Regions from separate parts of the Homo sapiens genome. Here regions 2 and 3 are each linked to region 1. Evidence: fine-mapped expression QTL. A gene starts in region 1. Each other region holds a variant in brackets. All regions are shown on one strand. Distances are between the middles of the regions.

Evidence for each region. PIP is the estimated chance that this variant, and not a neighbour inherited with it, causes the effect.
Region 2: its variant is fine-mapped to the expression of THEMIS2 in macrophages (Alasoo 2018, PIP 0.95).
Region 3: its variant is fine-mapped to the expression of THEMIS2 in whole blood (TOPMed, PIP above 0.99).

Annotation. Positions count from the first base shown.
Region 1 is chr1:27,867,822-27,878,589 of GRCh38, reverse strand. It overlaps THEMIS2 (thymocyte selection associated family member 2), which reads right to left and starts at 6,046. Exons shown (of 6, transcript NM_001105556.3): 1 at 5,925-6,046; 2 at 1,862-2,002. The coding sequence starts at 6,018. RefSeq lists a silencer at 5,929-6,198 and an enhancer at 8,872-8,921.
Region 2 is chr1:27,893,057-27,902,291 of GRCh38, reverse strand. It overlaps RPA2 (replication protein A2), which reads left to right. Exons shown (of 9, transcript NM_002946.5): 5 at 4,585-4,659; 6 at 5,171-5,287; 7 at 7,895-8,002; 8 at 8,186-8,280. Among named protein-coding and RNA genes, the nearest start is that of RPA2, 17 kb to the left of the region's middle. The variant T/AT (reference allele first, on the strand shown) is at 4,979.
Region 3 is chr1:27,929,999-27,940,766 of GRCh38, reverse strand. SMPDL3B (sphingomyelin phosphodiesterase acid like 3B) reads right to left here and starts at 5,767. Exons shown (of 8, transcript NM_014474.4): 1 at 5,523-5,767. The coding sequence starts at 5,583. RefSeq lists enhancers at 55-349, 5,232-6,133 and a silencer at 5,640-5,905. The variant T/G (reference allele first, on the strand shown) is at 5,678.

The DNA of each region.
Region 1 (10,768 bases):
GTAATACATTCGTGTGTGTGTATGTATGGAGAGGGAGAGAAACACATGTAACAAATGTTTAACACTTGACGGGGGAAAGAAAAAAGGAAACCTGAGGCCGTTTTTGGCTGGGCACACTGGCTCACGCCTGTAATGCCAACACTTTGGGAGGCCGAGGCAGGAGGATCACATGAACCCAAGAGTTTGAGTGAGACCAGGCTGGAGAACATAGCAAGACCCTGTCTCTACTAAAAATGAAACAAAAAACCCTCACTGGCTCCTCATTGCCTTCGAAATAAAGAACAAACAGTGTCAGCACACCACATAGCCCCCAGGTGGTGTGGCTCCTGCGGCTCCCCACACAACTTGCCCCTAACCTGGAAGCCACACTTTCCCGCATCTGGCAGGCAGTCACATAACAGCCAGTCCTCAGAGTGTGCCTGCTTTGTACCAGGTGCCCCCTCCCCACTTTTTTTTTTTTTTTTTTTGAGAGACAGAGTCTCTCTCTATTGCACAGGCTGCAACCTCCACCTCCCAGGTTCAAGTGATTCTCATGCCTCAGCCTCCTGAATAGCTGGGATTACAGGTGCCCCCCACCACCCCTAGCTAATTTTTGTATTTTTAGCAGAGATGGGGTTTCACCATGTTGGCCGGGCTGGTCTTGAACTCCTGACCTCAGGTGATCCACCCGCCTCAGCCTCCCAAAGAGCTGGGATCACAGGCATGAGCCACCAGCCACTGCACCCAGCCTGTCCCAGGCCCCCTTCTAAGTGCTGTATACATATCAGCTCATTTCATCCTCATATCAAGCCTAATCGCCCTCATTACAGAAGAGGAAACTGAGGCCCAGGGAGGTCCCAGAGAGGCCCAGAGAGGAACCTGCCTAGCTTGCCCAAGGCCACTGGGATTCAATTCCAGGCCACTGGCTTCAGGGTCCAGGCCATGGCCCACCACACTACATGCCTCTTAAAATAATTGAGCTCTGGCCGGGCATGGTGGCTCATGCCTGTAATCCCAGCACTTTGGGAGGCCAAGGCGGGCAGATCACGAGGTCAGGAGATCGAGATCATCCTGGTTAACACGGTGAAACTTTGTCTCTACTAAAAATACAAAAAAAATTAGCTGGGTGTGGTGGCGGGCGCCTGTAGTCCCAGCTACTCGGGAGGCTGAGGCAGTAGAATGGTGGGAACCCGGGAGGCAGAGCTTGCAGTGAGTCCAGATCACGCCACTGCACTCCAGCTTGGGTGACAGAGCGAGACTCCATCTCCAAAAAGTAAAAATAAAAAAAAATAATAAGAATTGAGCTCCTTGGGGTTTCCTGAGCACCAAATGTGCACATGCTACTCCCTGTGGCTGGGATCTTTCTTCTGGTTCAGATGCCACCTCCTCCAAGAAGCCCTCACAGATCCTGAGGCAGGTTACTGTTGCTCAGACCCCTCTCTAAAGCTTATGACTCCTTTTACTGTTGGCCTCCTCTCACTGTCATCCCAGAAGCTCCCCACTGGAGAGGGTGGCACCTGATTCATCCTGACCCCCATACCCACAGCCCGCCACACGGAGCCTGGCACACATGGGTGTCTGCAGATGTTTGGGGAGTGAATGTGTGAGTGAACTCAGAGACAGGCACCTGGACAGGGCTTGGAACAGAGGCAGGTGTGACCAGAGACTGAGAGGGAGAGGGTGCAACCTCTCTGAGTCCAGGGCATTGCCGACCCTCTGAGGACATCCCCACCCTTGAGGCTGGGTTGTGGTGAATGTGAGGGCCTCGGGAGCAAACCCCGAGGGGAGGGAGTGACTGCTGGACGTGGCAAGCCCACGAGCAGCCTGCGGGTGTGCCAGGAGAGTGCCAGGGCACATGGGGAGGCAGAGGTGCCCACCTTACCCTGGAAGTTGGGGGCGAGCTCCATGGTCTGGCTGGTCTTCGGGTTCTCACAGACCACCTTCTGGAGGCGGACCTGGGTGACCTTGATCAGGTCCCCCGTGGAGAGGCAGCACTCATTCCCAGAGATCTCATAGATGGAGCCTGCGGAGACAAGGACTCCATTTCCCCATTGGACAAGGGCCAAGTGCTGGGCAGCCTGTGCCCTGGTGCCCAACAAGCTCTGCTCTGCCATGCCTTTGCACATGGTGCCTGCTGCCTGGCATGCCCTGCTCTGTCGTTCCTGCCTCATGCCCACAGGTTCAGTCGTCCTCAGCTGTCCTTGCCCCTCCTGGCATCGGTGCACCCCGCTGTGGCACACTTCTCTGGCCTTTTTCACATCCCCGTGCCTCCTCCACTGAGTTCACAGGCAGGGCTGATCCATCTCAACATCACTGCAGCCAGCACAGGGCTTGGCCTCTGAGTATGTGGTAAGTCCACAAATCAGTAAATAACCCAGTGAATCCCCCTCTCTGAGCCTGATTTTGTAGCTGTACACTAAGGGAGTTGGGATTCCCTTAGTGTACAGCTACAAAATCAGGCTCAGAGAGGGGTCAGTGGCTCCCTGGAGATCACCCGGAGCCAGGGCCGGTACCCAGCCCTCCTAGCACCCTGGAAAATAGAGGGGCACTGACAGAGTGAGGCCCAATGGGCAAAGTTCTGCTTTCCTGGTTTAAAGTGTGTAAGTGAGGGTTGGGCGCGGTGGCTCACGCCTGTAATCCCAGCACTTTGGGGGGCCAAGGTGGGTGGATCACGAGATCAGGAGATCGAGACCATCCTGGCTAACACAGGGAAACCCCGACTCTACTAAAAATACAAAAAAAATTAGCCAGGCATGGTGGCGGGCACCTGTAGTTCCAGCTACTCGGGAGGCTGAGGCAGGAGAATGGCGTGAACCCGGGAGGCGGAGCTTGCAGTGAGCCGAGATCACGCCACTTCACTCCAGCCTGGGTGACAGAGTGAGACTCCGTCTCAAAAAAAAAATAATAAATAAAAATAAATTAATTAATTAAAGTGTGTAAGTGGTGTCGAGAACACAGAAGTTGCTCAATAAAGATCTCTCACGCACACACGAGTGCACAGTCTCTCCATCCAGCTAATGGAGGACAACAGACTACGTGGCAGGACCTTGAGGCCACCTGAACCCAGCCCCACCCACAGGGCAGCTCCAACATCAGCCCTGAGAAACTGATGAAAACCTCCCCACGTACTGCCAGGAAAATGCCCACCAGTCATAAACCACAGTCTGTTTACAATGTCAGAGCATGGGCCTTCCAGACTGGTGAGAACAGCAGCTGTGGTACTACAGATACCCGGCACTGTGCCAAGGGCTACTGATGCGTCATTGTGTTTAAGACCCATGACTGCTCTTGCGGAGACAGGCAGTTTCAATTTCCTAAATAATGAAACAGCTGGCCAGGAATGGTGGCTCATGCCTGTAATCCCAGCACTTTGGGAGGCCAAGACAGGGGGATCACCTGAGATCAGGAGTTCGAGATCAGCCTGGCCAACATGGTGAAACCCCGTCTCTACTAAAAATACAAAAATTAGCCCAGTGTGGAGGTTGGCACCTGTAATCCCAGCTACTCAGGAGGCTGAGGCAGGAGAATTGCTTGAACCCAGGAGGTGGAGGTTGCAGTGAGCTGAAATCAGGCTACTGCACTCCAGCCTGGGTGACAGAGGGAGACTCCATCTCAAAAAAAAAAAAGAAGAAGAAGAAAAAGAAACAGCCTCTCAGGGGCTGAGTAGGTTGTACATGATGATCAGGTAATAGGAGGCAGAACTGGAAGTTATGGCTGGGTGCGGTGGCTCACGCTTGTAATCCCAACACTTTGGGAGGCTAAAGTGGGAGGACTGCTTGAGGACAGGAATTCAAGACCAGCCTGGGCAACACAGACCTCGTCCTTTTTTTCGAGACAGAGTCTCACTGTCGCCCAGACTGGAGTGCAGTGGTGCAATCATAGCTCACTGCAACCTCAACCTCCCAGGCTCAAGCAATCCTCCCACCTCAGCCTCCTGAGTTGCTGAGACTACAGGCATGCACCATCACACCTGACTAATTTTTTTATTTTGTGTAGAGACACGGTCTCAGTATGTTACCCAGGTTGGTCTTGAACCCCTGAGTTCAAGTGATCCTCCTGCCTCAGCCTCCCAAAGTGCTGGGATTACAAGCATGAGCCACCACACCCTGCAATTTTTTATTTTAAAATTTTTTGTAGACATGATGTCTCACCATGTTGCCAGGGCTGATCTCGAACTCCTAGGCTCAAGCAATCTTCCCACCTCAGCCTCCCAAAGTGTTGAGATTATAAGCATGAGCTATCACACACAACCTATGTTCTATTAAACAAAAAACAGGGCCTGGTGTGGTGGCTCATGCCTGTAATCCTAACACTTTGGGAGGCCGAGGCAGGCAGATCACTTGAGTCCAGGGGTTTGAGACCGGCCTGGGCAAAATGACAAAACCCCATCTTTACAAAAAATACAAAAATTAGCTGGACGTTGTCCTGGTGCGTGCCTGTGGTCCCAGCCTCTCAGGAAGCTGAGGTGGGAGGATCACTTGAGCCCAGGAGGTCGAGGCCGCAGTGAGCTGTATCGTGCCACTGCACTCCAGCCTGGGCAACAGAGCCAGACTCTGTCTCAAAAAAAAAAAAAAAAACCTAGGTTGAACCCAGGGTGTTTGCCTCCAGAGCCAGTGCTCCTAACCAACCACGCAGCCAGCCCCTTCTGAGTGCCCTGTAGACGCCTGCCCCTATTGGCATGGCCATCTGTCCTCCGCACTCACCCCATCCGCACACCCACACCCTGTCAGGGCCTTCTCTAGTCACCATCACTCTGACTTCCACCATTTCCACCATCCCGCGTCAGGCAGGATGAGGAAACAGGTGTTGTAACACCAGCAGGCAAAGGGTGCTGGGAGGACGAAGACGCTTGGTCCTGGGCTGGGGGAAGAGCAAACAGATCCCAGGCGCCTTCCTGCAGAAAGCCCCTGGAGGTAGAGTCAGAATTTGAACCCAGATCTGCCAGATTCCCAAGCAGACCTGGAGAGACCCACTGCGAGGTGGTGGCCCCCTGCGGGACCCTTCATGAGGGACCTCCTTGGTCTAGGACCCCACTTGGGACCTCAAACACTCTGCTGGAAGCTGCTGCGACAGAGCGTTTTTCTGCAGCCAGGGAACAGGATGGGGCAGGGCCTTCAAGCCTCAGTTCGCTCTCTAAGGAAGGAACCCGCACCCCCACACAGCATCTCTCTCCTCCACCTCCATCTCCCCTACTCGGTGGCCCACGGGTCCTCCCTGCCCACAGAGCAGCACTGGCCACCCATCCACTGTGCTGTCTTACCCTGCCCTCCACTGTCTGTTATTCCCTCACCGCTTGCTCCTTCAGGCAATGACTAGTGACTGTGCGCCTGCTGTGTGCCCATCCCTGTGAACCAGGCCGCTGCGGGCAGACGGCAGATGTACGGGGGCGTGCAAGGAGCAGAGAGCCAGGAAGGCTTCCGGGAGGAAGCGCCATTTAAGCTGAGAACTGAAGAGCTGATCAAATCAAGTACTGCCCATGGTCAAACAGAAGGCCAAGGTGGACGCAGGGACTGAAGGAAGGCAGTGTAGAGGAGGGCCGGGGGAGGAGTGGGAGGACACAGACGGGAAGACTGACCCTGCACTTCAGAATCAAGACGCAGCCACGACCACCAGCGGCCTAATGCTGCGTCCCGGCGCGGTCGGAGCTCTGTCCCATGCGCACCGCGGGGCCACCTAGGAGTGGCCCGGCTGCATCCACCTCCCGCGCCTCAACCCACTGACTTTTCATCACTACCCTGCGGGGCAGGTCAGCGGTCCCCGTTCCACGAAAGCAAAAGCCGAGGTCCAAAGAGGTTGAGTGCGGCCCCAAATCACACAGCTTGGCCAGTGGCAGTGTCGGGATTTGAACCCAGGGGCAGTTTCCCCGGATTGCTAACGTCTTCTCCGGGTCTCTGCCCCCGCCCCACACCAAGGGAGTGCTCGGAGGGGTTCCAGCCCCCGCTCACCCTCGAAGTAGACCCCCGAGCAGACCCGCAGCACGCGCGGGAGGGAGGCGGGGTCCAAGGCGCGCACGAAGTCCTGCAGCGGCACCGGCTCCATGGTCCCCGCGGCTCTCTGGGCTCAGACTGAGGGGCGGGCGGGCGGTCCCCGGGAGCCCTGCAGCCCCGCCCCGCCGATGCCCCGCCCCGCACGCCGAAGCCGCCCCGCCAGCCCGCGGGAGCCCTGCAGCCCCGCCCCGCCGAAGCCCCGCCCCCCGCCCCCTGCAGTACCCTATGGGGAAGGGGCGATGATGAAGATGAAGAAGTCCCAGACGCCCCCTCAGCAGTGCTCCCAGTTAGAAAAAGGGGACGCGGCCCGACTTGTTCTGCGTCTCATAGGAGGGACATGCCTCTGCCCTTTGGGTTTGAGGAGGGAGATGTAGTGTCAGGGCTCCCGAATGTCCCTCCAGGACACTCCATGGTCCTCTATCGGAAACCTCCTGGTGAAGGGGATCTCATTACCTCTCCAGAACTCCCATACTCTTTCGATAATTATTGTCTACGTTGGCCTCGAACTCCTGGACTCAAGTGATCCTCCCACCTCGGCCTCCCAAAGTGCTGGGATCACAGGTGTGATCCACCTGTGAGCCACCACGCCGGGCCTCACCAATTCTAGTTAAAAATTCTTCCTAAGGCTAAAGAGAAATCTGCTTAGAAGCCGGACCAACCACTTATCCTGACCCCACAGGCTCGGGATAAGCCTTTTCCATTTCCCTGTCCCTCAGGAGTCAGACCAACATAGGTTCAAATCCCAGGTCTCCTCTTGCTCGTTGTATGACGTTAGGCAAATCACTTTGATTGTGTGAACCTCAGTTTCTTACTCTCTAAAACAGGGAGAAGAGGGCCGGGCGCAATGGCTCACGCCTATAATCCCAGCACTTTGGGAGGCCGAGGCGGGTGGATCACCTGAGGTCAGGAGTTTGAGACCAGACTAACATGGTGAAAACCCGTTTCTACTAAAAATACAAAAAAACCTAGCCAGACGTGGTGGCACACACCTCTAATCCCAGCTACTCGGGAGGCTGAGGCAGGAGAATCGCTTGAACCTGGGAGGCAGAGGTTGCAGTGAGCCGAGATTGTACCATTGCACTCCAGCTTGGGCAACAAGAGCAAAACTCCGTCTCAAAAAACAAAAACAAAAACAAAAAAACAGGGAGAAGAGGCTGGGTGTGGCCTGTAATCCCAGCACTTTGGGAGACTGAGGCAGGAGGATCACTTGAGACCAGGAGTCCTAGACCACCCTGGGCAAACTAGCAAGACCCTGTCTCTTAAAAAAAAGAATAAAATAAAATAAGGCCAGGCGCGGTGGCTCACGCCTATAATCCTAGCACTTTGGGAGGGTGAGGCGGGCAGATCTCCTGAAGTCAGGAGTTCAAGACCAGCCTGGCCAATATGGCAAAACCCTGTCTCTACTAAAAATACAAAAAAATTACTGGGCACAATGACTCACGCCTGTAATCCCAGTACTTTGGGAGGCCAAGTTGGACAGATCACCTGAGGTCAGGAGTTCGAGACCAGCCTGACCAACAGGGAGAAACCCCGGCTCTACTAAAAATACAAAAGTAGCTGGGCGTGGTGGCACGTGCCTGTAATCCTATCTACTCAGGAGGCTGAGGCAGGAGAATCGCTTGAACCCGGGATGTGGAGTTTGCAGTGAGCCGAAATTGCATCATTACACTCCAGCTTGGGTAACAAGAGCAAAACTCTGTCTCAAAAAAAAAAAAAAATTAGCTGGGTGTGGTGGTGCGTGCCTGTAATCCCAGCTACTCGGGAGGCTGAGGCAGGAGAATCGCTTGAACCCGGGGGGGCAGAGGTTGCAGTGAGCCGAGATCACGCCACTTTACTCCAGCCTGGGTAACAGAGCAAGACTCCATCTCAAAAATAAATAAATAAATAAGTAAATAAATAAAATATCCAGGCATGGTGGCATGCACCTGCACTCTCAGCTACTCAGGAGACTGAGGCAGGAGGGTGGCTTGAGCCTGGGAGGTCGAGACTGCAGTGAGCTATGATCATGCCACTGCACTCCAGCCCCAGCCTAGGCAACAGAGTGAGAACCTGTCTCTAAAAAAATAAAAAAATAATAAAATAGGAGAAAGAATTATATCTCAGCAGATTGTGAGGATTGAATAAGATGATATAGGTATTGTGCAAAATGCCATATTTAGTTTTTTTGTCACTATAAAAGTAACAAAAGACTTTTAATCAAAGATAATAACAGAAGTTTAAAATACAATGAATAAATTCTAACTAAAGAACATTTGATTAATAAAAAGCAGGCATTCTTTACCCACCACCCAAAATACTTACACTAACTACTAATATTTTGTTGTGTTTCTTTCTAGTTTTTTTTTTTTTTTTTTTTTTTTTGAGAGGGGTGGGCGGTCTCATTCTGTCACCCAGGCTGGAGTGCAGTGCTGCACACACAGCTCACTGTAGCCCCCAACCTCCTGGGTCAGGCTTCACAAAAGTGAAGGGTCTTGCCTAAGGTTATGCCAAGTGGAGACACTGGGATTTTAACCCGGCTCTGCTAGGCTCCTCCTGCAGGCCAGAGAAAATGACCGTTCTTCACTTCTTTCCCAGGTGCTTAAGCAGATTGTGGAAGTTTGCTGGATTTCTGCTCAGCCCAGTTATGTCTAGAATTTCAGTAGAGGATGGGCTTTGGAGATAGACAGAGCTGGGCTCAAACCCTGGCTCCACTACTTCTTAGCTGTGTGACCTTGGGCAAGTCCCATACCCTCTCTGAGTCTCAGTCTCCTCTCCCTCTTTACAACCAAGGCTGGCAGGAGACAGGTGTTGGTAAAAATGTTAGTGTAACCCAGGCACATGGGGACATGCCCAGTACCCCATATCTACAATCATTACATGATATTGTTCTTTCCCAAGACCTCCTGTGCCTCTGACAAGAGTTCTCATCTTCTTTATTTCTCCCAACACTCTGCATTCTATTTGAGGAAATAAGACACTCAATGGGAACCTGACTTCCTTGCGGTTGCCCGTGTAATGGAGGAACTAAAATCTGAACCGAACCTGCAGGTGGTCACGGCCCAAGCCCTTTTCACTTCCCCAGGTTGGGAGCACCAGCCTGGGGATCTGTCCTTGGCTCCTCAAGAGCTGAATGGGGCAGAGAAAGAAGCTCAGATTCCCACAGTAGGACAGGGGCAGAAAGGAAGTCCCCCCGCCCCCACCAGCTGTGAGGAGGATGCCTCCAGCCACCGGGAACAGAAGTTCCTCATTTCATCAACCCATCTCTGTCAGCTTTTGGACTCTGAAGGTGGATGGCTCAGGACCTCCTTTGGACAGTGCAGGAGGCAGCTGGCCACAGCGGCAGGGTGACAGGATGGGGTCAGACCCGTGCCTGCTGTGTGGCACCACACACTCCGGTATATGATGTGTCACGTGACTTGGTGTTTTTCAGCAACTTGCCAGGCAGGATGTGGGGTCCTCCCTCTCCTCCCGTGTTTCCTCCCACTGTAGAGGAAGGTAAGGGCCTAACACTGACACAGCACTGGGCAGCGGTTGTTAAGGTGTCCTGCCATCCACTTCAACACCCACCGGCGTGGCCCACTCACCCAAAGCGGTGGGAAACATCCCAGCAGCCAGCAGGGTCAAGGGCAGTGTGGCAGGGACAGGGAGAATGCCTGTGCTCTGAGGGCGAGGGATGGAGGCCCAGCACATCCCTGAGCCTGCAGAAGGGCTGGAAGCCCTCCGCATGCTGGCTGGAAGTTACCAGTGTCCCTACCGTGTGATGCTGCCAAGCAGTTTGCCACTCAGTGATACTCCAGGCACCCAGGCTGCCCACCAGAGCAGATACACGCCTGGCCTGTGGGTCCCGAAGTTGTCCTCGAGTTGCTCCCTCACTGGGAGAGCAAGATCCACCAGCTGGCCCAATGGCTTCATGGCGCCCTTCCGCAATGACCACAATACAAAGACGGCACCACAGCAGCCCACAGGTCTCCTGCAGAAATGCTCACAGTTCCCAGGCGCGACGGTGGCAAAAGGGCATGTCTTGTCTTGTAACTGTTTTCTGGATTTTCCAGAACACAGTTTGAGTACTTAAAAGAAATTTTTTTCTTCCAGTCTGGAGCCTTGTCTTATTTTTAATTTTTAAATGTTTTTTAGAGACAGGGTCTGGCTATTTTGCCCCCTCTGCCCTTGAATTACTTTCATATTAACAAAAACAACATGAACAGACCCTGCATGGCCCCTCTGAGACAACTGTGGAGATCATGGGGGAGGGGTTCTCCCCCCAGTGCAGGTTTTCACAGGAGTAAAATAGGTCACTTTCGGGAAAAGATGCTCAGCATATCTTTTTTTTTTTTTTTTTGAGATGGAGTCTCGCTCTTGTCACCCAGGCTGGAGTGCACTGGTGTGATCTTGGCTCACTGCAACCTCCGCCTCCTGGGTTCAAGTGATTCTTCTGCCTCAGCCTCTCGAGTAGCTGGGATTACAGACGTGCCCACCACGCCCAGCTAATTTTTTTGTATTTTTACTAGAGACAGGGTTTCGCCATGTTGGGAAGGCTGGTCTCGAACTCCTGACCTCAGGTGATCCACCTGCCTCGGCCTCCCAAAATGCTGGGATTACAGGCGTAAGCCACTGCACCCGGCCAATGCTCAGCATATCTTTAAGGAGGCAGGCGTGTCTGCTTGTAAAGCCTCAGAGGGCTGGCTCATGCTCCTGTGTGGTGGAAAATTAGTTCGACTCCCCTCTTGGCTTTTTTCTTTTGTTTTCTTTTTTTTCGAGATGGAGTTTCACTCTTGTTGCCCAGGCTGGAGTGCAATGGTGCGATCTTGGCTCACTGCAACCTC
Region 2 (9,235 bases), 24 kb before region 1:
AAAAAGTATACGTAAAAATAATAAAAAAAATTAAAAAATTAGCAGGGCATGGTAGCACGTGCCTGTAGTCCCAGCTATTCGGGAGGCTGAGGCAGGAGAATTGCTTGAGCCTGGGAGATGGAGGTTGCAGTGAGTCAAGATTGCGTCACTGCCCTCTAGCCTGGGCATCAGAGCAATATTCCATCTCAGAAAAAAATAGTCTTTTCAGTGAAAATTTTGTCATTTTTTTATGTGTATTTCTTTGGTTTTAGCCATATATATGTATTTTTTTTTTTACTATGTTTAATGTCAATTTGTGGGGTTTTTGTAAATTTTCTCTTTGATTCCCCTTCCCCTAACAGTGTTTTTGTTTGCAAGAACTTGAAAATGATTATAGTGACCTCTTATAATGAGGCCAGGCACAGTGGCTCACACCTGTAACTTTAGCACTTCAGGAGACTTAGGCAGGAAGATCACTTGAGGCCAGAATTTCAAGACCAGCCTGGGCAGCATGGGAAGACCCTATCTCAAAAAGAAATAATTTTGAAAAATAAATTGTGCAGTTTTTTCTAGTTTACCTTTCGGAAGCTTCTACTAGTCCCAAAGTTTGTTTTTTTTGTTTGTTTGTTTTAGTTAAAAAATACTTTATGGTGGCTGGGCGCGGTGGCTCACGTCTATAATCCCAGCACTTTGGGAGGCCGAGGCGGGAGGGTCACCTGAGGTCAGGAGTTCAAGACCAGCCTGGCCAATGTGGTGAAGCCCTGTCTACTAAAAATACAAAAATTAGCCAGGTGTGGTTGTGGGCACCTGTAATGCCAGCTACTTGGGAGGCTGAGGCAGGAGAATCGCTTGAACCCAGGAGGTGGAGGTTGCAGTGAGCTGAGATCGCGCCATTGCACTCCAGCCTGGGCAACAGGAGCGAAACTGTCTCTCAAAAAAAGAAGAAAAAAAAAAACTTTATGGCTAACAAATTGTAATAATCAGTTATCCGAACCCTCAGCAATTCATAATGTTTTTGCTAGTGGACATTCTTGCCTCACTGTTGATGGCTGCTGACTGAGGAGGGTGGTAGTTGGCTGAAGGTTGAGCTGGCTGTGGCAATTTCTTGAAATAAGACAACAAAGTTTGCCTGAGTAACTGAGTCTCCTTTTCACATAAAATTTCTCGATATTATATCATGCTGTTTGATAGCATTTTACTTACAGTATAACTTCTTTCAAAATTGGATTCAATCTCAAACCCTGCTACTGCTTTCTCAACTAAACTTATGGAGTAGTCTAAATCCTTTATTGTCGTTTTAACAATGTTCACAGCATCTTCACTAGGAGGAGATTCCATCTCAAGAAACCAGTTTATTTGCTCATCCATGAGAAGCAACTCCTTTGAGAGGCCCAGGCGGCCAGATAGATCATTTGAGGTCAGGAGTTTGAGACCACCCTGGCCAGCATGGTGAAACCTCGTCTCTACTAAAAATAAAAAATTTAGCTGGGCATGGTGGTACATGCCTGTAATCCTGGCTACTCGGGAGGGTGAGGCAGGAGAATCACTTGAACCTGAGAGATGGAGGTTGCAGTGAGCCAAAATTGTGCCACTGCCCTCCAGCCTGGGTAACAGAGTGAGGCTCAGTCTCAAAAAAAAGGAAGCAACTCCTCATCCACTCAAGTTTTACCATAAAGTTACAGCAATTCAGTTATATCTTTAAGCTCCATTTCTAATTCCAGTTCTCCTGCTATTTCCACCACATCTGCTGTTACTTGCCCCACTGAAGGTGGAGGTAGCAGTGAGCCCAGATTGTGCCATTGCACTCCAGCCTGGGTGACAGAGCGAGACCTTATCTCAAAAAAAAAAAAAAAATCTTAAGCAGCCACCCAATATATACTTCAGATTAAAAAAGAGCTGTTGGCCAGGTGCGGTGGCTCATGCGTGTAATCTCAGCACTTTGGGAGACTGAGGCAGGTGGATCACTTGAGGCCAGGAGTTTGACACCAGCCTGGCCAATAAGGTAAAACCCCGTCTCTACTAAAAATGCAAAAACTAGCCGGGCACAGTGGTGCATGCCTGTAATCCCAGCTACTCAGGAGGCTGAGGCAGGAGAATCACTTGAACCCGGGAGGCACAGGCTGCAGTGAGCCGAGATCCCACCATTGTAATCCGTCCTGGATGATAAAACGAGACCTTATCAAAAAACCAAATAAATAAATCTCAGCTGGGTTCGGTGGCTGACGCCTGTAATCCCAACACTTTGGGAGGCGGAGGCGGGTGGATCACCTGAAGTCAGGAGTTCAAGACTAGCCTGGTCAATGTGGCAAAACCCTGTCTATTAAAAATACAAAAGCCGGGCACCGTGGCTCACGCCTGTAATCCCAGCACTTTGGGAGGCCGAGGCGGGCGGATCACGAGGTCAGGAGATCGAGACCATCCTGGTTAACAGGGTGAAACCTTGTCTCTACTAAAAATACAAAAAATTAGCCGGGCGTGGTGGCGGGCGCCTGTAGTCCCAGCTACTAGGGAGGCTGAGGCAGGAGAATGGTGTGAACCCATAAGGCGGAGCTTGCAGTGAGCTGAGATCCCACCACTGCACTCCAGCCTGGGCGACAGAGCGAGACTCTGTCTCAAAAAAAAAGAAAAAAATTGTTCATATTATTTCTATGGTTTCTTTTATTATAATTAAACCTATGATCTACATGGAATATATTTTGATAAAAGGAGTTGAGGTAGAGATCTTTTCTCAAGTGGATTCAAAATGTTGTATATGGGAATACAATTGTTTTGTTTGTGTGGTTTTTTTTTTTTTTTTTTCTTTTTTTTTTTGAGATAGAGTCCTGCTCTGTTGCCCAGCCTGGAGTGCAGTGGCACAGTCTCTCACTGCAACCTCTGCCTCCTGGGTTCAAGTGATTCTCCTGCCTCAGCCTCCCGAGTAGCTGGGACTACAGGCACCCACCACCACACCTGGCTAATCTTTGCATTTTTAGTAGAGACAGGGTTTCCCTGTTAGCCAGGCTGGTCTCGAACTCCTGACCTCGTGATCCGCCCGCCTCAGCCTCCCAAAGAGCTGGGATTACAGGCGTGAGCCACTGTGCCCACCCTTTTTTTTGTATTATTAACAGAGGCAGGGTTTCACCACGTTGGCCAGGCTGGTCTCGAACTCCTAACCTCAAGTGACTTGCTCGCCTTGGCCTCCCAAAATGCTAGGATTACAGGCATGAGTCACTGCACCTGGCCAGAGTTTTTATTTTTAAGCATATATTTTCTAGTTTTTTGTTTGTTTTTAGAGACGAGGTCTCACTATGTTGCCCAGGCTGGTTTCAAACTCCTGAGCTCGAAGGATCCTCCTGCCTTGTCCTCCTAAAGTGCTAGGATAACAGGTGTGAGTCCATATACCCCGATATATTTTCAATTTTTTTTAAAGTAATACATTTTATGTAGTCAGAAAAGAACTTTAAAAATCAGCTAATGGGCCGGACACGATGGCTCAAGCCTGTAATCCCAGCACTTTGGGAGGCCGCGACGGGTGGATCATGAGGTCAGGAGATCGAGACCATCCTGGCCAACATGGGGAAACCCCGTCTCTACTAAAGATACAAAAAAAATACAAAAAAATTAACCAGGTGTGGTGGCAGGCGCCTATAGTCCCAGCTATTTGGGAGGCTGAGGCAGGAGAATCACTTAAACTTGTGAGGCAGAGGTTGCAATGAGCCGAGATCATGCCGCTCCACTCCAGTCTGGGTGACAGAGCAAGACACTTCGTCTCAAAAAAAAAAAAAAAAATCAGCTAATGTATTTTTCTTATAAATAATGTGTGCATATTCTAGGAAACTGATAAGTATTAAAATCGTTTTTAATTATCTTAGTCAACCATTATAAACAGTTTAGTGTGTATTGTCCCAAATGGGAAATCAGCTTTTTTCCATGTATCATGACTTGTTTTTCCAGGCAGTAAATAGAATTCTATGTTATCATTTGCAACAGTGTGGAGTATCCTATTATATAGAAATGTGTACTTTATGTTGGATATTTAGGTTGTTTTAAAATTTTTAATATTCTATACTATGATAAATCTAAATCTTAATGCATGTTCTTAATTACTTCCTTAAATTCCTAAAAGTAGAATTGCTTTGCCAATAAGTATATCCACCAGAAAATTGTGTGCCTGCCGGGCGTGGTGGCGGGCGCCTGTAATCCCAGCTACTGGGGAAGTTGAGGCAGGAGAATTACTCAAACCCTCCCTTGGGAGGCGGAGGTTGCAGCGAGCCAAGATCGTGCCACTGCACTCCAGCCTGGGTGACAGAGCGAGACTCCCTCTCAAAAAAAGAAAAAAGAAAATTGTGTGCCTAAGAGCTTGAACGAGAGTGTCACAATTGTTTGCTTTTTTATGATGTGCTACAGAACTTTGGAACTGATAATTACCTTTAGAGATATTTTTATTCTAATTCCTGGTTTTACAAAATAAGTTGTAAAAGGCAGGGCAAACTACTTAATGCCATTTTAGGATCCTTTAACTCTTCTACTTCGTAACTTTCTCTTTCTATACATAATATAGAAACGTTAAAGAGGCTTTTACCAGCATCACTAAAACTTTAATGACATGTTTGTATTTTATGTTAGGACACCAGCAGTGAAAACACTGTGGTTCCTCCAGAAACATATGTGAAAGTGGCAGGCCACCTGAGATCTTTTCAGGTAAAGTCAGAATAAAATAACAGTTAAAGTGTTTTTGCATGAAGCAGTTTCTAGATTCATGTCATGGCTTTTGGATAGTTAAAATACTTAAGTCTCCCTGTTTAATGGGAAGTTATTTCTTACTCTCTTCAAAAGGAAATAACTTTTCTTTTTTTTTTTTTTAACCTTAACATGAAATTAACAGAATGGTAAAGAAAGAACAGAATCTCCTTCTACAATTGCTATCTGTGGCGTTCATTAGTTGGAGAAAGGAGAACACTAGATTCGGAGTCAGGAGTCTAGATTTTGCTTGGTTATGCAATCTTGGGAAAATTATTAA[T/AT]GTCCCTTAGCTATTAGTTTTAGTTTTTTTTCTCCTCATGTTTGACCATATTTGGAATACCTCTGAGAGTATATAACATTTTTCTCATATTGGTGAAATATTAATATTATAACCAAGGAAAGAGCCACAGTGTTGACCTGAAATTAATGTATGTTCATATTTTATTCACATTTTTTTCCTTCATTTTAATAGAACAAAAAGAGCCTGGTAGCCTTTAAGATCATGCCCCTGGAGGATATGAATGAGTTCACCACACATATTCTGGAAGTGATCAATGCACACATGGTACTAAGCAAAGCCAACAGCCAGGTGAGTAGTCTCGCTTTCCTAGCTTTTTCTCTTCCCTGGAAGAACACAGGCTACTTTTGTGTTCCAGCTTTGATTTCCTTGATATTTTGAAGGCCGAGCCAGAGAAAGACATCACTAAGTCCTCAGAACACTTTCTCCATTAGCTTTGTCATTGTATTTTATTCCAGATGAAACACTCATGTTTCTCTCAGAATTAGGAGTTCCTCTGACTCCACTGGCCTGGACAGCTGAGGCCTGTGACAACCCTCAGGTGTAGACATGTAATTATAGGCTCTTAGCTCTTATATAGCTCTTAGCTCCAGGATTGTCAGTGCATACTCAGAGAGTAGTCCCCTTCAGGACAGCATTTTGCTGTCTTCCTTCCAACTTACTGGCTAAGTAGGAAAAATTATGTATTATTATTTTTTCCCTGAAATTATATTTCTTGGTTCATATTGAAATTTCTCCCTAGTATTTTCCATTGTGTGAATTCACTTTGACAAGTCCATCTAGGACCATGCAAAACTAGAGTTGACTGTAGTATTAGAAAGCCCTCAGGGCAAGGTGTGGTGGTTCATGGCCTGAAATCTCAGCACTTTGGGAGGCTGGTGTGGGGGCATCACTTGAGCCCAGTTCAAGACACCACGCTGGGCAACATAGGGAGACCCTGTCTCTACAAAAAAAATTAAAGAATTAGATGGGCTACTTGGAAGGCTGAGGTTGGGAGATCACTTAAGCCCAGGAGGTCAAGGCTGCATTGAGCTGTGATCGTGCCACTCACTGCAGCCTGGGCAACAGAGCAACCTTGTCTCAAAAAAAAATAAAGAAAAAGAAAAATATTTATTGCGCCTACTTTGATTTGATAGTCCCAATCATTCTAGTCGGCATTCGAGTATAGCAGTGAACACTATATACTTACATTCTTGGGAGAAACAAGTAATAAACAAAAATATATGTATAATTTTAGGTAGTTATATAGGTGCTCTGAAGTAAATAAAACAGGAGAAGAGGCTGATGGAGGGAACAAGAATGGTACAATTTTAGATGAGGAACATTCTAAACCAGAGGGACTAGGATGTGCAAGAGCCAGGAGTGTGGAGTAAGCATGACATCTCTGAAACCAGCAAGGCCAGTGTCTGGAGTGAAGTGAATGACAGGGGAGAGGGAGAGGGTTGTAGGCAAGGAGGCAGGGCCCAGATTATATGGGGCTTTGGAGGCCATGGTAAGGATTACCTTTACTCAAATTTTTAAAATTTTGTTTATTTGGGTTTTTTGTTTTTGTTTTTGTTTTTTTTGAGACAGAGTCTCGCTCTTTCGCCCAGGCTGGAGTGCAGTGGTGCGATCTCGGCTCACTGCAAGCTCCGCCTCCCGGGTTCACGCCATTCTCCTGCCTCAGCCTCCCGAGTAGCTGGGACCACAGGCGCCCACCACCACACCCGGCTGCCACCACACCCGGCTAATTTTTTGTATTTTTAGTAGAGAAGGGGTTTCACCGTGTTAGCCAGGATGATCTCGATCTCCTGACCTCGTGATCTGCCCGTCTCAGCCTCCTTTCAAAGTGCTGGGATTACAGGCATGAGCCACCACGCTTGGCCCTTTTTTTCGAGACAGTGTCTCACTCTGTCACTCAGGCTGGAGTGCAATGGCGTGATCTCGGCTCACTGCAGCCTCCGCCTCTCGGGTTCAAGCAATTCTCCTGCCTCAGCCTCGCCAGTATCTGGGATTACAGGTACGCACCACCATACCCAGCTAATTTTTGTATTTTTAATACAGGCGGGGTTTCACCATGTTGGCATCCGGTTAGCAGTCCGGCTGGCAATGAGGATTTGTGGCCTAGGAGGCGGTCTGGGATGAGATCCTGGGGACACTGTCAGCTTTTTGGGAGACAGATAGAAGAGGCTAATGAGGGATACTGAGAAGGTTCAGTTTGAGAGGCAGATGGAGAACCAGAAGAATGTGGTGTCAAGAAGCCCAGGGAGGAATACATTTCAAGAGGAGTGTGGTCAGCAGTGTCTGCTTCCGAGAGGTCAAGTATTAGGAGGACTGAAAGAGACTTTTGGATAATTGGTTGAAAAGTCTTTGGTGACTTTGGTGAAAACAGTTTCAGAGGTGTACTGGGGGACAACCCAAATATGGTGGGCTGAGGAGTGACTGGGGAGAAAGGAAATGAAAATAGTGATTGCAGAGCATTTTAAGAATTTGGTGGTTAAAAAAAAAGAAAGAAAGAGAGGACGATAGGGACTGTGTCTCCTTTTCTCTGCCTGTGGTGCTTCATGCCTATTGACACTCAGTGAATGCTTGAATGATTGGGCTCCATGGATACCAAAATAGCAGACTCTGGGTAATTTTCTTCTTGCTGCTACTCTTCTCTGGTTCGTCTGACATCACAAACAAAAGGAGCCAAGAGTATCTTTCTCTTTTTGATATTTATGTGCTTCGGGGAGTTACTTTATCTTCCTGTGAAATACTCATTAGATAATAGCTGTCCACTCCAATGTAAGCAGTGTTATAAACTGGGAAACTGTTTATAAATTGTTTTTTGTAAGCTGCTTAACGAGCTATTTTAAGTAGTAAAGACTGTTTAACTTGATGGATTTTCTAATATTGCTAACTTATTTCTTAATTCAGCCCTCAGCAGGGAGAGCACCTATCAGCAATCCAGGAATGAGTGAAGCAGGGAACTTTGGTGGGAATAGCTTCATGCCAGCAAATGGCCTCACTGTGGCCCAAAACCAGGTAACCTCCACCAGAGTGGCTTCAGAAATACAAAACACAGATAGTCTTAAATTTTGTTACTTCCTTAATGAGCTACGACTGTTTAAGTACCTGGTTCATTTCTTTTCTATAAAGGGACTCAGGTTTGCAAAGGGGAGGCTGATCCAAAATAATTGCTAAAATCTTTCTGATTTGAATCTTCAGGTGTTGAATTTGATTAAGGCTTGTCCAAGACCTGAAGGGTTGAACTTTCAGGATCTCAAGAACCAGCTGAAACACATGTCTGTATCCTCAATCAAGTAAGTATTTGATTTTCATGAGCTCAGGCTCTGGCATTGTACCTATTTCACCTCACAAGGGTTTCCTGATAGTGAGAAGTGGGTTTAAAAAGTAAAACTTGGCAGCCGGGCATGGTGGCTCACGCCTGTAATCTCAGCACTTTGGGAGGCCGAGGCAGGTGGATCACCTGAGGTCAGGAGTTCGAGACCAGCCTGGCAAACATGGTGAAAACCCCGTTTCTACTAAAAATACAAAAATTAGCCGGGCATGGTGGCACGCAACTGTAATCCCGGCCACTCCGGAGGCTAAGGCAAGAGAATCGCATGAATCCAGGAGGCGGAGGTTGCAGTGAGCCACCATCACACCACTGCACTCCAGCCTGGGTGACAGAGCGAGATTCCATCTCAAAAAAAAGTAAAAGTTCGCCAGGCATTAGCTCATGCCTGTAGTCCTAGCACTTTGGGAGGCTGAGGTGGGCAGATTGCTTGAACTCAGGAGTTCAAGACCAGCCTGGGCAACGTGGCGAAACGCTTGTCTCTACAAAAACAATAAAAACAAATTAGCCGGGCACAGTGGCGCATGTCTGTAGTCCCAGCTACCCAGGAGGCTGAGGTGGGAGGATCGCTTGAGCCCAGAAAGTCAAGGCTGCAGTGAGCCATCATTGTGCCACTGCACTCCATCCTGGATGACAGAGTGAGACTGTCACACACACAAAAAAAACTTAACTGCAACCCTGTTGGCAGAATGGAAATCGTTCAGCTATGGAAAAATAGGAAAAAGACTATGGGCCAAAATGGTGCTACCCATCACATCACTCATTCAGCAAGCACTAAGGACCACTATATGTGAGGGATATATAATAATTCTGAGCAAAAAGTTGACCTGATTTCATTATGGGATTTAGACTGGAGGAAGGAAGTCCTTAGCTCCTGGTCGTCAGGTGTACAGTCCTGTTGCTGTTACTGTCCCCATTGT
Region 3 (10,768 bases), 62 kb before region 1:
AGAGGCTTTCTACATTCGCACTGCTTGGACCTTTTACAGTAAGACAGTATTCATCTATAACTTGAGTTTTATAGAAAGGTACACCAATCTCAGCTATCATTATTATTCATTTATTACTGAGAAGATAAATAAATTTGGTATTGAGTACAGTGAGTAGCTGAGGCCACAGACCTGGGAGGGAGTCCTACTGCACCACCCCATAGCTGTGTGAACAGCGGAACCTTCCCCTGGGCCCGTTTCCTCCTCTGTAAAATCAAGATAACAGCGCCCCCTACCCCTTGGGGCCCTCGTGAGAATTAAAATGAGAAATGTGAGATGATTTCATAAATGGGAAGCAGTGGTTACTCCACATTTGGTTCCTGGGGGGTTCTACAAGGCCCCCTCTCACCATGAGAGACAGGACAAGGTGGGGAGTGGCCACGTTCTACCCAGCCAGCCCCAGCGTGTCCTTGGCTACTGTCCACAGGTAAAGTGCAGGGGCAGGGCAGGCAGGACATCTGAAGGGAAACAAGATGAAGATAGAGCCTGTCTGCCCCAGATGACCATCTCTAAGAGGAGGACTGGTGGGCACAGCGCGTCCCTGGGCAGGCAAAAAGTGTCCTGGCCCGCCTCCTCCTTCACCAAAGGGGATCACCAGGCCTTTATGCTCACTAGGGACAACAGACATAGGGCCCAAGGCCTCATAGCTCTGCAAGGCCCACAGAAATATCTGAGACTTGGAAAAAAATGCATTGACTCTAAAAGTGCAGGAAAGACAAAAATTACAAATATCAAGTAAGTCATCAAAATCAACAATTCATTTCAAAAGCAATATTAAAAATCTCATGGGCCACATGCATTGGCTCACACCGGTAATCCCAGTGCTTTGGGAGGCCAAAGTGGGAGGATCACTTGAGGCCAGGAGTTCAAAACCGTGCCTCTACAAAAACAAACAAACAAACAAACAAACAAAAACAAACAAACAAAAACCCAGGCTGGAGTGCAGCAGTGTGATCCTGGGTCACTGCAGCCTCAACCTCCTGGGCTCAACTGATTCTCCCACCTTAGTCCCCCAAGTAGCTGGGACTACAGGCACGTGCCACCAGGCCTGGCAAATTTTCTTGTACTTTTTTGTAGAGGTGGGGTTTGCCATGTTGCCCAGTCTGGTCTCAAATTCCTGAGCTCAAGTGATCTGCCTGCCTCGGCCTCCCAAAGTGCTAGGATTACAGGTATGAGCCACCACACTAGGAATGCAGGTATATGCCACCACACTCAGCTACTTTTTAAAAAGAAATTTAATTTCTCCGTACTTGGGAGGCTGAGGCAGGAGGATCCCTAAAGTCCAGGAGTTTGAGGTTACCTTGAGCTATGATTGCAGCACCGCACTCCAGCCTGAGCAACAGATAGAGACCCTGTCTCCAAAAAAGAAAAATAAGATAAAAAAATTAAAATCATACATGATATGGGATCTTTTTAGTATGATTTGTGATAGGGGTGGGGAGAACTCCCATAGTCATAGTCATTTATAAAACCTAAGTTCTTAAAATGGCTAGAAGGTGAGTTCCCTTATGGTTGGAGACAGGGGGGCAGGAAGGCATCTGCCATTCATTTAGCACCTACTGAATGCCAGACACTGTGCCACACACTCTATCCATGCAGCCTCATGACAACATTATGAAATGCATCCTAAGATGTACTCATTTTACAGATGAGGAAACTGAGCGAGTGAGCGGCAGACCGGGGATGCCGAGCACGTCAGAATGGAAATGATCACAGTGCACTATATTCTGCCACCACCTACCAGCATGGCCTTGGAGATATATACAGGTTTTCCTTGACTTACAATGGGGCTACGTCCCCCAAAATTGAAAATATCATAAGTCAAAAATGCATTCAACACACCCAACCTACCAAAGGGCATCGTAGCTTAGCCCAGTCTACCTTAAAGGAGCTCAGAACACTTACATTAGCCTACAGTTGGGCAAAATCATCTGATGCAGACCTATTTTATAATTAAGTGTTGAATGTCTCTTGCAATGTATTAAATACTGAATTGAAAGTGAAACACAGAGTGGTTGTATGGCTTCTCGAAGTGTGGTTTCTAATGAATGCCTAAGGCTTTCGCCCCATCATACAGCTTAGTGGAATCTTCGTAAGTCAGGGACCATCTGTGTGTATGCCTCCTTAAACTTTTACAACATTTTACAATGTACCTGGCATGATCTCACTTAAGGCCATCACATTTAATCTCTCCTCTGCTAACATCCCTATTTTATAAACAGTAAAATAAAGGTTGCAGGTCACACAGGTATTCAAAGGCAGGACCACAGGTAGGACCTAAGTTTTCTGGCTTCAGGCAGTAAGTTATTTCTGCAAGGACATGCATGAAACCTGCAATCAGGGACATCTTATTTTGAATCCTGGCTCTTCCATACAGGCAGTGGCAACTTAAGCAAGGGATTTTCAGAGCTGAGCCTTAGTTTCCTCATCTATAAAATGAGGATTAGAATGCACCCAGCAGAGGGATGCTTGTGATGCAGAGCAGGTGAGCCCCAAAGTGGAGCTTAGCCCATGAGGGTTCTTGGCTTTGCCCAGGAAAAAATTCAAGGGCAAGCTTGAGGTTGAAGCAAACAGCTTTGGTGAACAGGTGATGTACAGCTCCATGACTGCTCCTGCAGAGCAGGGCTACCCCAGAGGCAGAGAGTAGCAGCTCAGGGCAGTTTTGCAGTCACATTTATACCCACTTTTAATTGCCTGGAGATTAAGGGGCATTTATGCAGAAATTTCTAGGGAAGGGGTAGTAACTTTTAAATCATTGGGTTACTGCCATAGAAGGGGCAGTAACTCCTGGGTGTTGCCATTGCAAAGGTAAATTGACATGCCACACTGCTGGGTGTGTTTGAAAACTGCTTTTGCCCAGGCCGTATTTTAGCTAGTCCTCAATCTGGTCTGGTGTCAAAGCCCTGCCTCTGGAGTCCAGTCCCACCTCCTGCCTCAGTTGTGCAGGTAAAAGAGTTCTCTTATACAGAGCACCTGGCTGTGGGGTGAGCAAGGCAGCCTTAGGACTCATTCCCTGGGCCACACTGCCCCTCAGCCTCCGTTTCCTCAAGTATAAGATGAAAGTACTGAACAGAGGTTCCCTGAAGGCCCTCCTAGTCTGACTCCTGTGATTCAGTGGCTTTTGTCTGTTATTGCCTATAACCCACACCACACAATGGTCTCAGTCTCTATTTCAGTCCTTTGCTATTAAGGCTAGCATTAGCCCCAAAACACAATTGTAATTCATCCTTTGTAAATGGAGGCCCTCCAAAACCCATGGAGTTCATTTGTTAAAACCTACATTTACGGACCACCTACAGTGAATACCCTCTGTTCACAATAGCTCCAGAGGTAGGTGTTACCATTCCTGCCCTGGTCCTGCTCCCTCAGCCCTGGGCTGGCCTTCCAGGGAGTGTTTTCCTACCAAGCTAACCCACAGGGGAAGAACCTGTCTGCTTCTCTGCAGTTAGAAGCTGAGGAAGGAGCGAAATGTTACACAGGACATGTGTAGGAGGAGAAGGAGCCAGCAAGTTGGCATCCACCCAAGCTCCTGGCTAAGGAAAGTGGAGGCAGAAATCCCACAGTTTAATGCAAAGCAGGGATGATGCTGTCTGATCCCCTGTCTCAGAATCCACCTGTGCTTCAGGAAGACACCTGGAGTTGGAAAAACCTTACAGGTGCTGCGGAATTCCTTTTTTTGTTGTTGTTTGTTTGTTTGTTTGTTTTTTGAGACGGAGCCTCACTCTGTCGCCCAGGCTGGAGTGCAGTGGTGCAATCTCGGCTCACTGCAAGCTCCACCTCCCGGGTTTACCCCATTCTCCTGCTTCAGCCTCCCAAGTAGCTGGGACGACAGGTGCTCATCACCACGCCTGGCTAATTTTTTGTACTTTTAGTAGAGTATTTTTAGTTTCACCGTATTAGCCAGGATTGTCTCAATCTCCTGACCTCGTGATCCGCCCGCCTCGGCCTCCCAAAGTGCTGGGATTACAGGCGTGAGCCACCGCATCCGGCCCGGAATTCCTTTTAAATTTACTTTAAAAGGAATACATTCCAGCAAGTTTGGAGAAAAGAGAAAAAAATAGTACCTCTAAACCCCACCATCCCAAGAGGACATGAAGCATAGTACAGCCAGGCACAGGCTTTGTCCTGCCATTTCCCAGCTGGGAGATCTTCAGCAAGTGCAATGTCCCCTCTGAGACTCATTTGCCTCATCTGCAAAATGGGTATAATGATATTAGCACCTACTTCAGAGGGGCTATAAAGAGAATTTTTTTCTTTCATTTTCTTTTTTTTTTTTGAGATGGTCTCATTCCCGTCACCCAGGCTGGGGTGCAGTGGCACAATCACAGCTCACTGCAGCCTCAACCTCCCAGGCTCAGGTAATTCTCCCAGCTGAGTCTCCCAAGTAGCTGGCACTACAGGCACCCACTACCACACCCAGCTAATTTTTGGTATTTTTAGTAGAGTCAGGGTTTTGCTATGTTGCCCAGGCTGGTCTCAAACTCCTGGACTCAAGCAATCCACCCTCCTCAGCCTCCCAAAGTGCTGGGATTACAGATGTTAGCCACTGCGTCTGGCCTCAAGGGTCCTTTTAAACATACAGAAGTCAGAATAGATTACACCTGTGCCTAGAACCCTCCAATGACATCCCATTTCACCCTGAGCAAAAGCCTGCGTCCTTCCTATCTACAGGCACGTGGAAAGAAAAATGTCTGAGTCCTCAAGAGAGTCTTCGAGGCTATCCATGATTTGGCACCTGCCCCACCCCACCATCTGCCAACCTCACCCCCACTTGTCCTGCCCACCCTGCTTCAGCCACGCGGGCTTCCTTGCTGTTCCTCATGCACATCTCCTGTGTGTCCACCTCAGACCCCGTGCACTGTCCTCTCTTCCTGTAATGTTCTGGACACCCATGTGGCTCCCCCACTCACTGCCTCAAGGCTCCACTTGAGTGTCACCTGATTTGACAGCTCTTCTCTGGACGTCTTGTAAGTACCCCCTCCCCACAACCCGCCTTCCCTGTTCTACTTTATTTTCCCCATAACACTTATCATCTCCTCCAATGCTGCGTACTTTACTTGTTCGTGTGGTTTGTTTTTTTCTCCCCAGATGAAGGAATTCTTCATTGAGACGGGGACTTTCTTTTCTTCTCTGATATATCCCTGGCTCCTAGAATAACGTATGGTACAGGAAAGGACCTCATTTGTTGAATGAGTCCACGAATCTTTCCTGCCACCTCCTACCTCTACTAATTAGCTAGCTCTCACGTACCCAGACCTCTTCGCAATGTCGGTGTCCCTCCCTGGCCAGCTGGCGCCTCCACTTAAAATCTTCAGCCTCAAACAGCACTTGCTAAGGCCCACTAGCTCTCCCCACCTGCCTCCCTGCCTAGCTCCTGCCTTGCTATCTTTAGAAGCACCTTCAAGCTGGCTGCGAGCAGCTTCCCGCAGCCCCAGAGTTCACAGTACAAAACAAAGGCATAGCAGACATTCCCAGTGCTGTACCTGGTTCAGCCCTGGCACCTCCCCAGTTAGCCAGGAAAATCAGCCAGGCGAGCAGCCTCATCCTCGGGGCTCACTTCCCCAGAGCCGTGGGATTCTCAGGCACTGTTGTTGTTCTCACCACAGGCTTCCTAAGTAGTTTTCTGTGGCCACGTGCC[T/G]GAGCAGAACTCCTTGTCCTGTTACAGGTGTTCCAAGTCCTCCAAGGCGTCTGGATCCTCTGGCTCTTCCTCCTTTGCCCAGCAGGGTATGATCTGGGCTGGCCCGAGGAGGCAGGCATACCGGACCCTTAAGTGGAAGCCACACCTCTCCTGCCAGTGCAGCCCCTGCCCCCAAGAGGGAGGGGCAAACAACAGAATTGCCGGTCAGCACATCAGGTGTATTGGCAAGCCCCGGAAAGGGGGATCTAATTCAGACTGAGGAATGTGAGAGGGCTTCTAGGAGGGGGTGACACGTTTAATCCTTTCTTAACATTGTATTATGGAAACAGTCAAACAGAAACAGGAGAGAGAATGGTGTAATGAACCCCCAAGTACCTTCCTCCAGCTTCAGTAATTATGAACTTATGGCCACTCTTATTTCATCTATACTCACTTTTGATTATTTTATGTATTTAAACAACTTTTTTTTTTTTTTGAGACGGAGTCTCATTCTGTCACCCAGGCTGTAGTGCAGTGGCACCATCTCAGCTCACTGCAAGCTCTGCCTCCCGGATTCACACCATTCTCCTGCCTCAGCCTCCCGAGTAGCTGGGACTACAGGCGCCCGCCACCACGCCCGGCTATTTTTTTGTATTTTTAGTAGAGACGGGGTTTCACTGTGTTAGCCAGGATGGTCTCGATCTCCTGACCTTGTGATCCACCCGTCTCGGCCTCCCAAAGTGCTGGGATTACAGGCATGAGCCACCGCGCCCGGCCCTATTTAAACAACTTTTAAAATTTTTTATTATTTTAACTTTTATTTATTTATGTATTTTTTTAGAGAAGTGTCTCAGGCTGGGTGCAGTGGCTCATGTCTGTAATCCCAGCACTTTGGTAGGCTAAGGCAGGAGGATCGCTTGAGCCCAGGAGTTTGAGGCCATCCTGAGCAACATAGTGAAACACCATCTCTACAAAAAATAAAAAAATTAGCTGGGCATGGTAATACATGTCTATAGTCCAGCTACTTGGGAGGCTGAGGCAGGAGGATCCCTTGAGCCTGGGAGGTAGAAGTTGCAGTAAGCCAAGATTGCATCATTGCATTCCAGCCTGGGTGATAGAGCAAGACTCTGTCTCAAAAAAAAAAAAAAAAAAAAAAAAGAAGGGGGTTGTCTCACTCTGCCACCCAGGCTAGAGTGCAGTGGCAAGATAATAATAGCTCACTGCAGCCTCGAGCTCCTGGACTCAAGCTATCTTCCTATCTTCCTGCTTCAACCTCTGGAATAGCTGGAACTATAGGCACTCGCTACCTCACCTGGCTTTTTTTTTTTTTTTTTTTAGAAACAGCATCTCACTACATTACTCAGGCTGGTCCCAAACTCCTGGCTTCAAGTGATCCTCCCACCTCAGCCTCCCAAAGCACTGGGCTGACAGGTGTGAGCTATCATACCTGGCCCTCACTGTATGATGTTAAATTCCAGTGATCATATCATCTTGAACGTAAACAGTATTTATCTCTAAAAGGTAAGGATTCTCTTTTTCTTTCTTTCTTTTTTTTTTTTTTTTTGAGATGGAGTTTCACTCTTGTTGCCCAGGCTGGAGTGCAATGGCAGGATCTCGGCTCACCGCAAAATCGGCCTCCCGGGTTCAAGTGATTATCCTGTCTCTGCCTCCCGAGTAGCTGGTATTACAGGCATGCGCCACCACACCTGGCTAATTTTGTATTTTTAGTAGAGATGGGGTTTCTCCATATTGGTCAGGCTGGTCTCAAACTCCCAACCTCAGGTGATCTGCCCAACTTGGCCTCCCAAAGTGCTGGGATTACAGGCGTGAGCCACTGCACCCGGCTAGGACTCTCTTTTTCTAACACATTATCAGATCTAAAAAAAAAAATAGTAATTCCACCAGGCGTGGTGGCTCACACCTGTAATCCCAGCTACTTGGGAGGCTGAGGCAGGAGAATCACTTGAACCCGGGAGGCGGAGCTTGCAGTGAGCCGAGATAGTGCCACTGCACTCTAGCCTGGGCGACAGAGCGAGACTCCACCTCAAAAAAAAAAAGAAAGAAAAAGAAAAACAGTAATTCCTTACTTCCACCAGGCAGATATGTGGTCAGTTTCCCTGATGTCACCAAATTTCCCTGATGTCTCTTTTTTTTTTTTTTTTTTTTTACAGCGGGTTCTTTCAAATCAGGGTCCAAACAAGGTCCACACATTGCATTTGGTAGATGTGTCTCTTAAGTCTCCCTTAATTTGTAGCTCTCCTGCCCTCTCCCCATTTTTTCCTTGTTCTTTGTCCTGTGAATTTCCCACATTCTGGAGGATTTGGCTGATTCCTTTCTGGTGGTGTCATTTAACATATTCCTCTGTCCCCCATATTTCCTGTAAACTGATAGTTACAGCCAAGGGTTTGATGACATTCAGGTTTGACTTTTGGGGAAGAAGACTTCTCAGGTGGTCTTGGGTCTTTCCTGTTGTTTTGCATGGCAAAGCACGTAAGATATGGTTGTCCCACCAGCTTAACCTTAATTTACAAGTAGGAGTTAGCAGGAAAAGGAGAAAGCTGGGGAGGAGGGTATCCCAGGCAGAAGGAGCTGAATCATCCCAGAGAGCTGAGTTGGGTGATATTGGGCTTGGGGTGCTAAGCCTGGGGAAGCAGGCAGGAGCCAGGTTGTGCTCAGCTGTTTGAGCTGAGAGCTGTGGGGAGCTATGGCAGAGACACAACCTAATTTGCATTTTAGAAAGATGCACTGGCTCTGTGGAAGATGGATTTTTGGGGAAACCAGCAAGCAAGGAGGCTAAGGCAGGGAAGTTGTCATAGTCCTTTCTGTGCTGTTATAACAGAATACCTGAGACTGAGTATTTAATAAAGAGCAGAAGTGTATTGGCTCACAGTTCTGCAGGCTGGAAAGTGTAAGATCAAGGCACCAGCAGGCTGGGTGTCTGGTAAGGCCATTCGCTTCTTCCAAGATGATGCCTTGCATGCTGCATCCTCTGGAGAGGAGAAAGGCTGAGTCCTCACATGGCATGTCTTGGCAAAGGGCCAAGACAAAAGAAGACCAAACTTGCCCTTTTGTAACAGCATTACTCCCACTCATGAGAGTGGAGCCCTGATGGCCCAATCACCTTCTAAAGGTCCAACCTCCCAATACCTCCATAATGGTAACCAATTATAACACCAGCTTTAGAGCGAACAAGCATTTAAACCATAGCAGAAGTCTTGGTGAAAAGCTGTAAGGGGCTACGCTTAGGAACTGGTAACTAGTAGTAGGGAGGAACTGAAGAGGCTGTGGCTGGGTAATTGGTTGAGTAGTTCCTGTTCTAACTGTATTTTTTTTTTTTTTTTTTTTGAGACGGAGTCTGGCTCTGTCCCCCAGGCTGGAGTGCAGTGGTGCCATCTCGGCTCACTGCAAGCTCCGCCTCCCGGGTTCACGCCATTCTCCTGCCTCAGCCTCCCGAGTAGCTGGGACTACAGGTGCCCGCCACCAAGCCCGGCTAATTTTTTTGTATTTTTAGTAGAGACAGGGTTTCACCATGTTGGCCAGGATGGTCTCGAACTCCTGACCCCATGATCCGCCCGCCTCGGCCTCCCAAAGTACTAGGATTACAGGCTTGAGCCACCACGCCTGGCCTCTAACTGTATTTTTAAACCCCATTCTAAGTAGGTAGCAAAGATCCCTTCCCTTGGAGGAGGATGTGGCAGAGTAGAAAGCCACAGCTTCTTGGAGACAGCTACCTCCAGGGTGTGTCCTCTGACCTCCTAGAGGGGGTAGTGAAAGGAGGGAGGGAACAGTCATAAGAGAGGGGAGACTGGCATAGCCAGGGCAGCAAACAGACGTTGCTGGATCTTAAGAGTTCAGGTTGCCCCTGGAAGGTAGCAGATTCTCAGACAGGAAGTCCTTGGACATTTACTTGGGTTCAATAAATATTGGATGTCTAGAAAGTGGTGAACAGGCTGGGCGCGGTGGCTCACACCTGTAATCCCAGCACTTTGGGAGGCCGAGGCAGGCAGATCACCTGAGGTCAGGAGTTCAAGACCAGCCTGGCCAACATGGTGAAACCCCATCTCTACTAAAATTACAAAAATTATCTGGATGTGGTGGCAGATGCCTGTAATCCCAGCTACTCGGGAGGCTGAGGCAGGAGACTTGCTTGAGCCCGGGAGGTGGAGGTTGCAGTTAGCTGAGACCACGCTATTGCACTCCAGCCTGGGCAACAAGAGCAAACTCCGTCTGAAAAAGAAAAGAAAAAAAAGACAGTGGTGAACAATGCAACAATGCAAAGCCTCTGCCTTCACAGGGCTTACATTCAGCTGAAAACATGGGCATTGCACAAATGAATCAACCACAAGGCTCCTGGCCTAGCTAAGTCCCTGGGGTCAGAGGTGCAGCAGAATTTCCAGCCCCTAGGAACTGTGTAGCCTTAGCCGATGAGTATATTATGTCCACAAACAACTACAGACTAAAGCCCCATTTCTGTTTAGGGCCTAGGTCACCCCAAGGAAATGAGGGGCATCAAAATAATCACTGAGACTGAATCTTCTGCCAGTCCCGAGGGAAGAAAGCTCAGAGACCCACTGCTATTGATTTAATGAAAATAAAGCCGTGTGACTTTTCTTGCCCCTGAGCCTGTGGCCTGATTTATAATCTAGGGCATGTCGAGGTATGCGTGGAAGGTAACCTATGGGACTGGTGGGGAAGGAGGGCAGGCAAGGAGTCTAGGGCAGCCAGTGCTCCCAGGGCTGAGCAGGCAGTTGGCAATGGTTACACCTGAAATTGGAACAAGGGAGAGAGTTCTGGGAGGGCACAGGAGCTCCTCATAAGCCCATCTGAGGGGTGCTGGAGTCTTACTCAGCTTTTGACTGCATGCAGGGCTTCTTTTCTTTTTTTTTTTTTCTGAGACAGGGTCTTGCTCTGTCACCCAGGCTGGAGTGCAGTGGCACTATCATGGCTCATTGCAGCCCTGAACTCCCAGGCTTAAGCAATCCTCTCACCTCAGCCTCTCAGGTATCTGGGACTACAAGCGCACACCACCACGCCTGGCTAATTTTTGTATATTTAGCAAAAAGGGGGTTTGGCTGGGTTACCCAGGTGGGTCTCAAACTTTTGGGCTCAAGG